2 separate regions of the Homo sapiens genome follow, and region 1 is linked to region 2. A link means that fine-mapping ties the variant in region 2 to the expression of a gene that starts in the linked region. Tissue or cell type: whole blood. Region 2 holds a variant in brackets; the other region holds the start of a gene. All regions are shown on one strand. Distances are between the middles of the regions.

Evidence for each region. PIP is the estimated chance that this variant, and not a neighbour inherited with it, causes the effect.
Region 1: PTPRB-AS1 starts here. The variant in region 2 is fine-mapped to the expression of PTPRB-AS1 in whole blood (TOPMed, PIP 0.91).

What each region holds. Positions count from the first base shown.
Region 1 is chr12:70,466,487-70,469,173 of GRCh38, reverse strand. It overlaps PTPRB-AS1 (PTPRB antisense RNA 1), which reads right to left and starts at 1,095. Exons shown (of 9, transcript XR_001749196.2): 1 at 847-1,095. RefSeq lists an enhancer at 394-1,366.
Region 2 is chr12:70,544,615-70,547,301 of GRCh38, reverse strand. PTPRB (protein tyrosine phosphatase receptor type B) reads left to right here. Exons shown (of 34, transcript NM_001109754.4): 22 at 2,639-2,687. All of the region lies in intron 6 of PTPRB-AS1 (PTPRB antisense RNA 1), which reads right to left. Among named protein-coding and RNA genes, the nearest start is that of PTPRB-AS1, 78 kb to the right of the region's middle. The variant T/C (reference allele first, on the strand shown) is at 1,308.

The DNA.
Region 1 (2,687 bases), 78 kb after region 2:
ATGCCTGTAATCCCAGCTACTCGGGAGGCTGAGGCAGGAGAATCGCTTGAACCCAGGAGGCGGAGGTTGTGGTGAGCCAAGAACACGCCATTGCACTCCAGCCTGGGCAACAAAGAAAAAAAAAAAAAAGAAAGAAAGAAAAAAAAAAACATGCAGATAAGGAACCAGAGAGGGCTCATCCCCTAAGGCAGGGTTGCTAAACAAAGCCTTGCCAAGCTGTTACTGGCCATGCCCCCAGGATTTAAAGCAAGGTGGAGGCTTGTAGCACAAACCATATAGACATGCAAAACACACCAGATTGGCCACAGCCTAAGACTAGCCCCACAAATCCTTTTTCATAATTAAAGGTTTACAGAAAATTTAAACAGTGATAGTTTGGGGGCCTGGCCTAGTAAATGGGGGGAAAAAACTGTAAAGGTTAACTGTTGACAGGGTGGAGAAGGGGAAAGAAAAGGAACAGTTTTAAAGTGCCTGGGGAAGAATCTCTTATTCTTAGGCAAGTGGTTCCTCCACCAGGAGAAAAGCTCAATTACTGTCAGATGGAGTAAAACCCCTTGACTGGGAAAGGAGAACGCTCCAGCAGTTCTGTGGGGTGGGGACTGCCAACCAGCTATGCCGGACCCTTGGTCCATGCGTCTCAGCCCCTGGAGGTAAGGGAGAGGTAAGGAGATAAGGGAGAAGGGAGCTTCTGTTCCCCAGTCGGTCCCAAAAAAGGAAGGAGGACATGAAAAGGCCCAGGAGTGAAGAGGGGTGGGGTGGGGACATGGTTTCCCCCACCTTCAGAAGTTTGAGGATGAAAAGGCTCAGAAGCAACAGTGAGAGGTTTTGAGTTACCATTTCACTCACCACTTCCGGAGCCCCCAGGGTGTGTGCCAAAAATGTTGCGGAACTTTTCCTTATTTCAGCTAAAGATGGGGTTCTTGTCCTTCCCACAGCCACAAAAATTTAGGCTCACAGACGACTCAAAGGGAAGTAAAGCAGGGTTTTACTGTGTGAAAAGCAAAAAAAAAGGGGGAAATAGGGACTCTTGCAAGGCCAGAGTCCCTCTGCTAGAGCACTTCCTGCCAGGCCATTTGAATCCCAGGTTCCAAACAGGAAGAGGAGGGGCCAGGCTCCTCCCTGCTGCAAAGGGTGTGAACCTCCCGGGGCTCCACCTCAGTGGGCCGGCAGGTTGGAGTTTCTGCAGGGACGCTCACCCACCTGGCTGCCTCACAATCAAGGTGGAAGGCAAAGTTGGGAAGCAAGCACCTTTTTCACATGGTGGCAGGAGAGAGAGAGAGAGACATCTCTAAAAAAAAATTTAAAAATTAGCTGAAAATGATGATGCTCTTCCTATGCCTTCCATCCTATGGTCCTAGTCCTATCCTTTGGATTGTGTTATGGGTTAAGCCAAATATCCCAAAAGTTCATATGTTAAAGTCCTGGCCCCCAGCGCCTCAGAATGTGACCTTATTTGAGAAGAGGATTATTGTAGATGTAACTAATTAAGATGACGTCACCCTGAAGTAGAATGAGCTCAATCCAATGTGTCTGGTGTCCTTATAAAAAGGGGAAAATTGGACACAGACATGCACACAGGGAAAACACCATGTGAACATGAAGGCAGAGATCAAGTGATGCATCTACAAGCCAAGGAACATAAAGATTGCCAATAAACTGCCAGAAGCTAGGGTAGAGGCATGGAATAGATTCTTCCCTCAAAGCCCTCAGAAGGAACCACGCTGATGACACCTTGATCTCAGGCTTCTGGCCTCCAGGACTGACAGACAATATACTCCTGTTGTTTTAAGCCACTCACTTTGCAGTAGTTTGTTAAGGCAGCCCTAGCAAACTAATATAGATTGTTATTAATAATAATAAATGCTCATATTTAAATTCTTACTCAAAGATAAGTAAGAACTCTAGAATGTACTTTTCCTCAGTACAATGCTGTGAGTAGGTACTATTTTTATCCTCATTATATTTTAGTATCCTCATGTGGCAGGCAGAATAATGGGCCGCCAAAGATGTTCTCATCCTAACCCTTGGAACCTGTGACTATTTAGATTACATTGCAAAGGAGAACCAATACTGCAGATAAAATTAAGGCTGGTACTCAGCTGGCCCTGAGATAGAGAGATTATCCTGAATTATCTGTGTGTGTCCCAAAGGAGCACAGGCCAAGCATAAAAAGACTAAAACTTAGATTTGTCCTACTGTGATTTGCCTTTGGTAGAAATGAGGAACTGGAGAGAAAAACTATGTTTCGAAAAGAAAACTATAGCTGGGTGTAGTGGCTGACACCTGTAATCCCAGCATTTTGGGAGGTCAAGGTGGGAGGATCACTTGAGGCCAGAAGTTCAAGACCCAGCCTAAGCAACATAGTGAGACCACCGTCTTTACAAAAATAAAAAAAAGTACTAGCCAGGTGTCCTGGCATGTGCCCGTTGTCTCCAGCTACTCAGGAGGCAGAGGTGGCAGAATCATTTGTGCCCAGGAGGTCAAGACTACAGTGAGCCATGATCACACCATTGCACTCCAGCCTGGGCAATAGAATAAGACCCTGTCTCTGACAAAAAAAAAAAAAAAAAAAAAAAAAAAAAAAAAAAGTCAAAAGAAAACTATAGTATGTAAGAGTTAAAGAAAGAGGAAAGGAACACAAAACACAGCTTGCAGTTGAAGACAGGTTTACTTTAGATCAAACCTGA
Region 2 (2,687 bases):
TGTGGACCTTTCTCAATATACTTCCATTAACAGGCTGTTATTCCTGGAAGAACACCTTTTGACTTGGAATGGATCTTTTGGAGATGGAAGTTATAGATGTGATTTATCAATATCATCTTGATGTTCATTTTACAGGATTACACTCGGATCTGGGCATAAGTCAGAAGAAGCGGGAGCAGGGTCAGAACAATTTGCCCTGGCCTAGTACCGCTTCAGCATTATCACAGGACATGCCCAGATACCTTTGGGTTCAAGAAATATAGATTTTAAAAAAACAAAAACAAAAAAAAAAAGGAGTACTTCTCGTCACTTTCATAGAATTGAAATTAACACTAGCAAAAGTTTTCCCACATAAACCAAGCCTAATACTCCATCAGTTCAATTAGAGAATCTTCACAGTAGGAGGGACTTAAGAAGTCACCCAAGCCAATCTTTAACTTAGAGCAGCGATGCCCTCCTCCAGCTTCCCTGGGACTGCTTCTCCTCCAGCCTCCCTGGGACTGCTTCTCCTCCAGCCTCTACTAGAATCCCACTCCCATCTTCCAACCCCCAGTGACTGGGAGCTCTCAACCTAGGAGGCAGCTCATATTCTAATGTTAGAAAACAGCTTAATGTTCCTAAACTCCTCCTTCCTTATAAATTCAGCCTACAGAGCCTAATTCTTCCTTCAAGAAGAAAAATAATCATGTTGTTTTCCTCTTCTACATGGCAGTCTTCCTTAAATCTGAAGCTAACTATATTATGTCCCTTGAAGTCTTCTCTATCATTGTTCAGGTCAGTCACTCAAATGATCTCTAATTCATCCTAAAATATGCCCCCAGAAATTGAGTGCAGCTCTCCAGACTGGGCTGACTTATGCAGAGAGCATGAAACTTAGGTCCTATGATAGGGATCACAGGCTTCTCATTCAAGCAGAGGTTACAAATCTGTGTGTTTGTAGCTGCATCTTGCTTGTTTATTGAATTTAGGACCAGCTGATTTTCAGGCACTATCCCACATGGACATGTGGACAGCCACCTCAGCAACTCTCCTGCTCAGGTGACTGGAATAATGCCAGTGTCAGCTGGATAGTTGTAAATCAATGCCTCACTGTCCCTCTAAATCGAGTATATCCCAAGCAAAGCATATCCTCCTTCACCAGTCTGTCATTTTTTTTTTTTTTTTTGAGGTGGAGTCCTGCTTTGTCACCCAGGCTGGAGTGCAGTGGCATGATCTTGGCTCACTGCAGCCTCCACCTCCCATGTTCAAGTGATTCTCCTGCCTCAGCCTCCCAAGTAGCCAGGATTACAGGTGCCCGCCACCATGCC[T/C]GGCTAATTTTTGTATTTTTAGTAGAGACGGGGTTTTGCCACGTTGGCCAGGCTGATCTCGAACTCCTGACCTCAGGTGATCTGCCTGCCTTGGCCTCCCAAAGTGCTGGGATTACAGGCGTGAGCCACCGCTCCCAGCCTGTCTCCTTATTTCTATCAATGATCCCACTGTTCTCTTGAGTGACATGAGCTCAAGTCTTAGGCCATCCTTGATTCTCCCCTGCTTCTCTTCAGTCTGGGCCCCATCTAGTTCCTCCTCTCAGTGCCTTTCACAGTCTTCTTTCCATTCTCATTGCCAGGGCTCCTGGCCAGGGCCCTGTGTCCTTGGCCTGACTATCCCAGCAGTCTCTTCATTGAGCTCTCTGCTCCAGCCACCTCACCTCCTATGCCCACACACACTGTTTCCTCCATATTCTACCATTCCTCATTTGCCATTGTATATATGCTTTCTTATTTTGCTATTTGCCTGATTCCTTTGTATTTTGTCTTTCAAGTTTCCAAGACTAGTGACCATACATCTCTTTTTAACTTCAGCAATTTATAAAGCAGTGCTTTAACAAATATTTCCTGTTGACAATAAATATGATATTAGAATATTTTTAGATAAAATGATCTTTAGAAAATAGTGCCAAAAGATATGTAAGTTAAAATAACAACAACAATAATATTGATATTTGGGCCACTTGACTTCTCTAATGGGCATCTCGGAATTACTTCCTCCACAACTGATCTGTCTGGATCTTCCCAAACCCCCCAGTCTACTTCTCAATAGTTTTCCCTCATGTTAGTAGGTGACACCTCCATTCTTCCAGTTGTTCCCCATCCAGAACATGTGGAATCATCCATACTCTATATTCATCAGCAAATCTTTTAGTTCTTCCTTTGATATATCCAACACTTCTCACTCACTGCCTTCATCACTACCATTCTGAATGAAGCAGTCCCACATGCTTTATTCCCATTGCTTTCCATCTTCCTTACCCTGCTCTTTTCTTTTTCATAGCACACATCTCATCTGATTTATTATATTTGTGTGTTTATTGTCTGACTTCCTCCATGAGAATGTAACCTCTGGAATGGCAGGGACTTTGTTTTGTTCCTTGCAAAGTCCCAGCTACTAGAACAGTGATTGGCGTGTGGCAGGGGCTCAATAAATATTTATGAATAAATTGATGAATGAATGCATGAACCCAGGTCTATCCGATTCCATAACTCATATTCTACCCTGCTACCCACTGACCAGGAACCCGCCCTATTTCTCCTTGAACACATTTTTCAGCTACTGTGTTCAACAACTAATTTATATTTAAATAAATCGGTTTTCTTTTCAGAATCAGCATTCGAGCTTTTACACAGCTCTTTGATGAGGACCTGAAGGAA